2 separate regions of the Homo sapiens genome follow, and region 1 is linked to region 2. The links come from fine-mapping of genetic effects on gene expression. A gene starts in region 2. The other region holds a variant in brackets. All regions are shown on one strand. Distances are between the middles of the regions.

What was found. PIP is the estimated chance that this variant, and not a neighbour inherited with it, causes the effect. A credible set is the group of variants that fine-mapping cannot tell apart.
Region 1: its variant is the best candidate, but not a certain one, in a credible set for the expression of NOD1 in tibial artery (GTEx, PIP 0.87).

What each region holds. Positions count from the first base shown.
Region 1 is chr7:30,456,121-30,461,491 of GRCh38, reverse strand. NOD1 (nucleotide binding oligomerization domain containing 1) reads left to right here. Exons shown (of 14, transcript NM_006092.4): 2 at 1,451-1,591; 3 at 2,252-2,340; 4 at 4,450-4,771. The coding sequence starts at 4,571. Among named protein-coding and RNA genes, the nearest start is that of NOD1, 20 kb to the left of the region's middle. The variant A/T (reference allele first, on the strand shown) is at 3,266.
Region 2 is chr7:30,475,922-30,481,292 of GRCh38, reverse strand. It overlaps NOD1 (nucleotide binding oligomerization domain containing 1), which reads left to right and starts at 2,509. Exons shown (of 14, transcript NM_006092.4): 1 at 2,509-2,687. RefSeq lists a silencer at 2,381-2,620 and an enhancer at 2,269-3,013.

The sequences.
Region 1 (5,371 bases), 20 kb after region 2:
ATTTTTTGTTGATGGGCTGGGTGCAGTGGCTCACACCTGTAATCCCAGCACTTTGGGAGGCTGAGGTGGGAGGATCACTTGAGGCCAGGAGTTCAAGACCAGCCTGGGCAATATGATGAAACCCTGTCTCTACTAAAAATACAAAAAGTAGCCAGGCATGGGGGTGTGCACCTGTAATCCCAGCTACTTAGGAGGCGGAGGCAGGAGAATTGCTTGAACCTGGGAGGCGGAGGCTGCAGTGAGCCGAGATTGCGCCACCGCACTCCAGCCTGGGCGACAGAGTGAGTGAGACTTCATCTCAAAAAATAATAATAAATAAATTTTGTATGGATGACATACTGAAATATTTTGAGTGTATTAGAATTAAAATATATCATTGAAATTAATTTCACCTGTCCATTTTTACTTTTATTAGTGTGGCTATTAGAAAGTTTTAAATTACTAGGAAAGCTGTGTCATATTTCAATTCAACAGAGCTGCTCTATGGTCTCCTTTTTCCCTTTGAAGATCCGCCATCCTGCAATCCCTGCTTCCTTTTCACCAGAGCAGCTTCCCTGAATCTTCTCCTGGAGGCTCTGCAGACCTTTTCTTTAGTTTGGAAGATCACATTGCAGGAGGGGACTTGGGCACTGGTTTCTGTGAGGAGCCCGGAGTGGTGAATTGCCCCTGGGATTCCCTTACCCTGGAAACTAACCCTCTCTGAGGGCAGAAAGCTAGAAAGAAGAGCGGTTGAGAGGAAATGCCTGTGCAACCCCCAGCTCCCTTCGGGGCTCCCTCACTGCCCACAGGCTCTACCCCCACCTGCCTTTGCCTCAGGAGATGGCTTTTGGTGGTGGACTCACCCTCCTCCGATCTCCTCTGCTTCATTTTTCCACTTGGTGATCCATCTTTTGTTCTGCGGTGTGTCCTGTTTTCTGGCTGCCTCCATTAGCTTGGTTTTTTCCTTTGGGTATCCCTGGAGCTGTCTTACCAGGATCTCCAACTTCAGTCCCCATTGGTCTGCACCACTGGCCTGGGAAAGCTCCACCCAGGAGAGCAGACCCAGCTCCCAGATACCTGGCCCCAGCCCAATCTCCGTCCTCTCTTTGCCTGGAAGAGAGGACCAGACCGTCTTCATCAACTGGACCCACCCTTTACCAAGCAAAGAAAGGAAAGGATTGCCCCCCAGGGCCAGCAGATCTCTGGCTGTCTGGTGTTTCTGGTAATAAGTGCCCATGAACTTCGAATTGATCTCCAGTCTCCCATGGTATGGTTTTGGTCTACCCTTAGATTCTGTTTACCAAGGCAGAGTTCAGTTTCTCTGCTTTCCCTTCCAACATCCATACCTTGTTAAGTTCTTGCTGAATTGAGCTAACTCTGCACACCTGATTAAATCTTCAGCCAGGGCTCTGGACATTATAAAGCAGCCTCCTTGCCAGATGGCTGTCATATAATATATTGCTTTATTTAGGTGATTGTAAGTCAGGAGACTTTCCTTCGGTTTCTGCCTTTGATGGCAAGAGGTGGAGATTGTGGCGGCGATTACAGAAAACATCTGGGAAGACAAGTTGCTGTTTTTATGGGAATCGCAGGCTTGGAAGAGACAGAAGCAGTGAGTAAAACGGGCCCCTCGTGGTAGGCGGGCAAAGGTCGGGAAAGGAGGGATGAAGGAAGCTGTGCAACACCCCTTCCCAGCTTTCTAAAGAATGGAGCATGGCATTGCAAAATGCTGAATCACAAAGTGAGAAGTGACTTCTTTCCAGTTTTCTCTCAGCCTTGTGATGATCTTAAAGAGAAAGTCTCAATTCTGTGCTACTGTGTCTTTAACATCTCTCAAATGCTTCCGAGAGAAAACAGGCCCCAACCCTGGAGCCTTTCCAGGCAGCAGGACTAGCTGGAATACAGTAACATTGTGGTATTTCTGGTGAATTAATTTTTGTGTTACTTTCTATGTATTGCAAAGGATATTTTTTTTCTGTTTCTAATGGTGACATTACATTCCTTTAAAATTATTAGAGTTTTCAAAACTCAATTGAAAGCAAAAGGTTAAGCAAATAAAGGACAGGTGTGACTCAATTATGGCAAGAACAACAAAAAAGTGACTATGGTGGGGACGTTGAACATTTAGAAAACACTGTCCTAAAAGAAGAAGGTACAGAGAGTAGTCTGATACCTGGGAGTACTAGATTTTAAAATTATTCTCTTGCCAATTTTATTCATTCATTCACCATGTGCCACAATAATTTTTTTAAGTCTTTCTTTGATTTTGCAGATTCCAGAAATAAATTGGAAATTGAAGATTTAAACAATGTTGTTTTAAAATATTCTAACTTCAAAGAATGATGCCAGAAACTTAAAAAGGTATTATTAACTGCTAATTTAAATTTAATATTGTCAGCTGGTATGCTTTAAATGAACCGATTTTCTAAAGCTAAGGATCCTAAAGTGGGTCATAGAATTGACTGCCATGGAAAATAGCCGGGTGTGGTGGCTCACACCTGTAATCCAAGCACTTTGGGAGGCCGAGGTGGGCAGATCACTTGAGGTCAGGAGTTCAAGACCAGCTTGGCCAACGTGGTGAAACCCTGTCTCTACTAAAAATACAAAAATTAGCTGGGCATGGTGGCACCCGCCTGTAGTTCTAGCTACTCGGGTGGCTGATGCAGGAGAATTGCTTGAGCTCAGGAGGCAGATGTTGCAGTGAGCCGAGATTGTGCCACTGCACTCCAGCCTGAGCCACACAGTGGGACTCTGTCAAAAAAAAAAAAAAAAGAAAAGGCTGGATTAGTATTTAATAACTTTTATTGGAACAATAACTAATATTTTCATACCTTTAAATTTTTTTGGTGAGGATCTCTTGCCCTTCTGTTGCTGATAATTTTAAATTTTACTCTTTCCTGCTCTATCATTTGGATTCTAAAAAGAAAGCTATTGTGTGGGGTCTGGCATTTGATAGGTTAAAAAAAGAAAACATAGAAGCATGTCAAAGAGCAGGAGACTCATGTGCCACTTGGTGGAAAAAAAATTGAGAACCACTGGACCTGAATGTTAACAGATGTGGCTTGTGAAACATATTAATGATGTGGATAGTGTTAAAAGATCTATGAGCTTTTTTTTGAACTACAAAAAAACCTTTTTTTTACTCTCTCTCTGAAATGCATGAGTTTTCCTGCCTAGACAAACGACAAAGTGGCCAATTCCAGGCCTTTCCACTTCCAAGATCATTTTACACACGCAAGTATTCCTGGACAAGAAGAGGCTGAAGGATCTTCTGTGGGATTTTTTT[A/T]AAAAATTATTATTTTTTGCTGTTATTGTTACAAGGAAGGTAGTGAGTGCAATTTTGGGATAACTCAGATGAACCCAAATGTTTTTTAATGCCCAAATAAAATAGCCTGGGTCCCTGTTCCTACCCAGACAAGAAACTCAGCACTTGTACCAGGTTTTCAAGGGTTTCCAGAGAGATACCTCTCTTGGGAATCTAATCCCAGGAACTCTGTGCCGGCTCTCCCTCTTCCTCCTGCCCCTCTGCCCTCCCTCTGTCCCACTTCATGCCACATGGGCTATTGCTTTTCCCTCCTTTCCCAGGGTGCTTGTGTATAACAGACTTTGCTGAAGGTCAAGGACACGGGGGAAGAGGTTATAGCACAACCCAAAATGGGCAACAGTGACTGAGACATCACCGTCCGCAGGTTCCTTGCCTCTGGCTACCACAGGAGACTTCATGCTGCTGTCTCTCTTCTCAGGCTATTTTGTGCTGAGACCGTCTCCCACCAAACCCCACAGGTCTTTCTTTCTCAGTTCTGGGCCTGTTCCCTGCTTGGGGAATGCAGAAACCTCCAAGCCCTGTTAACCTTATTATGTAAAATAAACACCTTTCCATCTCTATCCCAGTATAGGATCAAAGCACACTTTTGCTTTATAGTAATAATAAAGATGTTTTGATTTAAAAATAAAAAAGAGTTGGCTATCTCTGGTCACCTACCCTAGAGATGTAACCCTCAAGTGCAAACAATTAAATTATGATTTTTTTTCTTTAATGCATCTAAGATAAAAGTTTTTTTAGAGACAGGGCCTTGCTCTGTCACCCAGGCTGGAGTGCAGTGGTGTGATCATCGTTCACTGCAGCCTTGAACTCTTGTGCTCATGTGATCCTCCTGCCTTAGCCTCCCCAATAGCTGGGACTACAGGTGCGCCACCATGCCTGGCTAATTTTTTTTATTTTTGTAGAGATGGGTGTCTCACTATGTTGCACAGGTTGGTCTCAAACTACTGGCCTTACTTCAAGCTATCTACCCATCTCAGCCTCCCAAAGCGCTGGGATTACAGTCATGAGCCAACTTGCCTGGCCAGATAAAGGTCTTAAGCATGGTTCCTTCCTGCTCTAGGTAGAGAAACCCCACAACCAGTGGGAGGTGGGGTGAGCTCTTTCTGTAGCTTTTGCTTTGCTGATGATGTCATTGATCTCTTCAGGGGCTGCGCAGAGTAGCAGGGGCCCTGGAGGGCGCGGCCTGAATCCTGATTGCCCTTCTGCTGAGAGGACACACGCAGCTGAAGATGAATTTGGGAAAAGTAGCCGCTTGCTACTTTAACTATGGAAGAGCAGGGCCACAGTGAGATGGAAATAATCCCATCAGAGTCTCACCCCCACATTCAATTACTGAAAAGCAATCGGGAACTTCTGGTCACTCACATCCGCAATACTCAGTGTCTGGTGGACAACTTGCTGAAGAATGACTACTTCTCGGCCGAAGATGCGGAGATTGTGTGTGCCTGCCCCACCCAGCCTGACAAGGTGCCCCGGGGACAGGGACGGGCATGGCATTGTGTGGACCCCGGGAGCTAGAAGAGGCCTCTCCCTGCTGATCTGAGTGAAGAGCGTGGGAGTTTAGTCCAGCGGGCAGGGCTGCATTTTGGGGTACTAATAGCACACAAATGCCTGGGTTAGCAGGTTGCACAGTCAGGTATTTTACTTCTGTGTTTGTGTCTGGAGCAAACCCTGACATCTCAGTTCTCATTGCTGTGTGTATTGGTTCCCAGACACTTCATTTTTAGATCCCCTTTAAATTAGGAGGGAAAAAGAACATAAGCATAAGAGCATCCCCAGCAGCGATGTTCATTCAGTGCCTCTGAAGGCTGGAGGGCTGCTTGTTGCTGGGTGAGACTCGGAGGGGAACCGACTCAGGGTCAGGAATGATGACATCCCACGGTGGGTCCACAGTGAAGAATCTTCCCCGCTCCACTGTGGGACGCCTTAACAGCCCTTACTTCCACTTACGCTTTGCGTTATCTCCTGAAAAATAAAATGGAGACCACAAATTCCTTCTTGGTTAGAGGAATGACACAACTCATTTATGACATGACCCCGCTGGGACTCAGAAGAGACCAGGACGGT
Region 2 (5,371 bases):
TGAGGGCCGAATTCTAATTTTTGGAGCTTTATGTAACGTCGGGAGTGGATTGGGTACTAAAATGCATACTAAGACAGCCTTCTGACCTTTCAGAGTCTAGGGCTGTAAAGTGTCTAAGGGTTGTTGCCAAAAGAGCCATGGACTGGGCTATGTTTTCATATTTGATGAAAAAAAGCCTAAATGCTAATTGATTTGGGAGAGGTTGGATAAAGAAAAAGGAGCATTAACCTTGAGGAAATTGTTGGGTAGGTAGGGGAGGGCTAGTTGCGGAACGAAACTGTAAGCTGGACCGGGTGTGAGGAGGTGAGGTGATAGAAGGATTATAGGGTGGGGGAGTGGAGGCAGAGGAAGAATTGGGACCTGGCTCAGCCTGGCGAGGAGCAGCCTGGGGAGGAGGGGAGAGGTTAGATGGGTCCATAGAAAAGGAGGATTCACAGGACTCAGAGCTTGGGGTGGAGACTGAAGGAACAGACAGGAGAGAAAGAAGATTTGGGATGAGTCACATTGGGAGCAGAGATTAGGAAGGGACCAATGTGTAAAAGAATGCCTGGACATCAGGCACCTCAGACTATTTGCCCATTTTACGACAATAATTATCTAGCTCATGTAGGATGGAGAAATTGAAAGTGCCGTTTTCTGGCTATTTGGAACCATTGTTGAGTCTGTATTGGGGTCAAACGGTATTGCAGAAGAAAATAAGGCGTTTAGGTTTTAGGTCAGGTGTGAGTTGAAGAGGTTTTAAGTTCTTGAGAACACAGGCTAAGGGAGAAGAAGGGGGAATGGAGGGTGGAAGGTTGCCCATAGTGAAGGAGGCAAGCCCAGAGAAAAGAAGGTAGAGACCCGGAGAAGGGGGGTGGTGAGCAGCCCTGGGCTGCAATGTGGCTGAGCAGCCAAAGCAGGCGACCCACAATTGACTTGCCACCAAGGGAATGTGGGTGAATGACCAAGGCAGGCATCCCCACGGTGATCAGACACCAATGAAATGTACGTGAATAATCAGGCAGGTGTCCCTGCAGTGATTAAACACCAAGGGACGACTGTTTTCCTGAGTCCGTGACCGGAGCTGGAGTTTTGGGTCCATGGATAAAATATGTCTCCTTTGTCTCTACTAGAGAGGAGAAAGAACTGGAATTGGAAATAGAGGGAGATTTAAGGGTAGTGAGAGAGGCTGGAGAAGACAGTGAAAAGACCGCTTACCCGATTTGAAATTGGTGAGATGTTCCTTGGGCTGTTTGGTCTGAGGACCCGAGGTCATAGGTGGATCTCCTCACAGAGTGAGGGTGAGGACAGGGGACTGGTCTCCTGAAGGAGTCCTCCTGTCCCGGGTCTTCGGCACCAAATGTCACACGTGTCCGTGTGAAGAGACCACCAAAAGGCTTTGCGTGAGCAATAAAGCTGTTTATTTCACCTGGGTGCAGGTGGGCCGAGTACGAAAAAAAGAGTCAGCAAAGGGAGTTAGGGGTGTGGTAGCTTTATAGGATTTGTGTGGGTAGTGGAAAATTACAGTCAAAGGGGGTTGTTCTCTGGTGGGCAAGGCGGGGGCCGGGGGGGTGGAAGGTCTACAAAGTGCTCAGTGGGGGAGCTTCTGAGCCAGGAGAAGGAATTTCACAAGGTAATGTCATCAGTTAAGGCAGGAACCAGCCATTTTCACTACCTTTGTGATTCCTCAGTTGCTTCAGGCCATCTGGATGTATACATGCAGGCTTGGGCTCAGAGGCCTGACACAAGTTGGCACATTTGATCCTATCAACTTTAGTTTGCACTTTCACTTTTGATTTAAGAACATACTTTCTGTTTCTCAGAGGGCAGCCTCTGATGGGAATTTTAATACTCACAAGCATCAGTGGCTATATGATTGAATGTACTTCTTCAGTGTGAGTAAGTGACAACTTTCTGTAGCATGATATCCCTTATGGACACGATCCCCATTCAAAACGTTTTAAAACTATTTTATTGGGGACATTTATTAGCATGTTAAAACTCTTTTACAACCTATTAGAGCATATGCATAGAACATAAAATGTACACTGCCAAGAACAAATTTAAGGATAGGAAGAAAAGCTTACATTTTTTAAAAAGTATAAATTGAAATGTATGCAGTGTAATTTAAATTTGATTACGTTAACCTCCATTTCATCAGGACCACGTGTCGCGTTTTAACAAGAGTTTCCCTATCATGTCCAGGCTTTGGCTCTGGTTGCAGGCGCTGGGTAGGCACTTTTACGAGGAGGGACCTGGCACGATGGCACCACAAATTCCCAAGTGTGTCACCTCTGGGCGAACTTGGGCCTGTCCACTCGGCCCTGCGCGGTGGCCAGGGGCTCACCCTCTCGCACCGGGCGTCCCTCTGCGCGCAGCTTCTCTCGCCCCCCCGCGCCAGACCCGGGCGAATGGCAGCACCGTGGGACCCTGCCTTGACCGCCCCCGCCCTTCGGCGGCCTCTCCCAGCAGCCGGCAGGCTCTTGGGCGCGCCAACAGAGGGGCGCGGCTGCGGCTGTAGTCGCAGCCAGTTCCCGTTCCGGGCCCGCGAGGCAGCCGCCCCGGTCCTGCCCCTCCCTCGCGCTACTGCGGGAGCAGCGTCCTCCCGGGCCACGGCGCTTCCCGGCCCCGGCGTCCCCGGACCATGGCGCTCTCCGGGCTCTTCTCTAGCTCTCAGCGGCTGCGAAGTCTGTAAACCTGGTGGCCAAGTAAGTCCCAGCGACTGGGGATTCGCGCGGGGCAGGCCCTTTCTGAGGTCCTGGGCGCTGCGAGTGAGGAGGCGCAGGGAGGCGGGATTTGCGTGCGGGCGGAACGCAGCGCGGCTCTGGAGGAGCTCTGGGTGGAACCAAGCGGAGAAACCCGCGAGTTTGAAGCATGTAGCGAAAGTTGAGAGGGATGAACTTCACAGTCAGCGGAATCGTTTATCCCACTGTGGTCGAACGCAGGGGTTCTCAATCGTGCCAGCAGCTTAGAACCACCTGGGGAGCTTTTAAAATCCAGATATCCAGGCTGCACCCTAGATCAATTCCATCAGAATCTCACGGAGTCAGACCCAGGCCTCCGTATCTTTTAAAAGCTCCCCAAGTGATTCCAGTGTGCAGCCAGCGTTCGAGGGTTTGTGGCAAAGGCTGGAAGGGCAGACAGGGGCCTTCATGGAGTCCCGCCTGCAGACGGGACAGCAGCTCCCAGTGTCCTGCTTGGTCCTGGAGAGAGGGTGAGAACTTCCCTTGGGTTTCATGCTCCACAAAGTAAGGAAATGAGACAATGCTTGGCAAGGTCGCCTGAATATCACATTCAAAAACGCCTCCAATGTGTGCAGTTGTTTTGGCACATTGTGAAAAACATAGGAAATGACAGAGGTTGATGTCTCATTAGCTCTGCATTCTAGGAAACATTTCGGTTGTTGGTGTTTGAAATTAAGTCTGGGGAAGCTAAGCTAGTAAACCCATGGCCTTGATGACTTCTGGCCTTTCTGCTTTAAGGGTGAAGCCAGGGCCGGGCGCGGTGGCTCACGCCTGTAATCCCAGCACTTTGGGAGGCCAAGGCAGGCGGATCACCTGAGGTCGAGAGTTCGAGACCAGCCTGGCCCAACATGGTGAAACCGTCTCTACTAAAAAAAAAAAAAAAAAAAATTAACCGGGCGTGGTGGCGCATGCCTGTAATCCCAGCTACTCGGGAGGCTGAAGCAGGAGAATTGCTTGAACCCGGGAGGCAGAGGTTGCAGTGAGCCGAGATCGCCCTGTTGCGCTCCAGCCTGGGCAACAAGAGCAAAACTCCGTCAAAAACAAACAAACAAACAAAAAACAAAAAAACGGTGAAGCCAGAAGTCGTGCTTGCCAAAGGGTCGAGTTTGTTCTCCCTCAAAGCCCCTGTTGAAGATTGAACTATCACTTTCAGGGAAGAGTAAAAGAGTAACTCCACGATGCATCTTAGAGAGGAGTGGATTCCCTGTTCTCACCCAGGCTTAGATGCCAGGGGCCAGGTAGCTGAAATCCAGGCAAACCAGGCATTGACAAAGTACAGACTTCTACCGAATATGCCAGACAGATAAGCAAGCTGTGTTTAAAACAAACAGCAGAGTGGTAGAAGAGGGCTCTTTCAAATATTGTAAGAAGAGTAGGTTTTATTTTTGTGGAGTGGAGAAATAAGTTCACGCTTTGGAACCCATCAAATCTGGGTCAAAACTCGGATTCTGTCACTTCTATGCTGTGACTTTGGGCAAGTTCCTTGACCTCTCCAAGCCCCTGTTTTCCCACCTGTAAAATAAAGAGCAACCCTCTCCTGAGGCTAGCATAGTTCAGCGAGATGATGTGCATCACACACCTGGAAGGTGGTGGCGCTGGCAGGTGCTCTGGCAGAGGTAGTTATTAGACACTGGAGTGGCAGTTTGTGCCCGTTAATTGTTTACTTAGTACAGCCACTATGAGGGAGAATGTCTATAAAATGTTCCCTTCAACGCTCCATTCCTTCTCCTGCCCTGCTGCCCCGCTCAGGGCCTTAGCGGGCTTTAAGTCTGAAATCTTAGGCTGCAAATCCCCTCAGTCCCCCAGGGCGTATTAATGGCTCTGGAATACAGTTTTACTGCATGTGATAGGAATGAATATTTTGACACACACACACTCAAAAGCTGTTCTTAATCTTGAGACTTCCTCCTCTCTGTTGCCACATATATATCTTTTAAATGGCTTTCCAAGAAAGCTGGGCTGTGCACAGTGTCTCAGAATTAGTGTATGTGCACACACACGCACGTTGCTCCCTGCTGACAACATCCTCAGACCATACCCTTGGTGTTCCTGTTTTGCTCCTGACTCTTGGCCTAGGGACAGTGAATCTTTCTTGAATGACCAAGGACAGTCAGGGATCTGAGGAAGGGAGAACCCAAATTCTACAATTGCTGATGCCTGCGTCCCAGCTGGAACTTTACCCTGGTACGTGCTCTGTGCATCATGGATGGTCACTTTGATCCTAACAGCAGTGCTGTTTAGATTAGACATCAGAAATAGAAACAGTAAGTAATATAGGCATAAAGATCAAGTGTTTTTCTAGTGTATGTGTGATCACTGATATTTGCTTACACAAGACTATCAAAGTCTTATCTCTTATTCAAAGAAAAGGATTCAATATTTGTTCAAAATCTAAGATATGAACGTAGGATTTAAGGTTTAAGTTACTAGTTTCTTCTATCATTCTTATTATTGGGGGGATTTTTTTTAGGCAAGAAGAAATTAGAAAAGCTAAAATGTGTACTTATGCTGAATTTTTGTCATGCAGAGGCTCTAGGTATTTTGCAAGTTTTCAGAAGTCCCATTTTCTTTTATCTTCTAGGGACAGTCAGTTGCATGTCACACAAGGGGCCTCCTTTGATTTATCCAAAAGGTCTGACCTGGTTTCT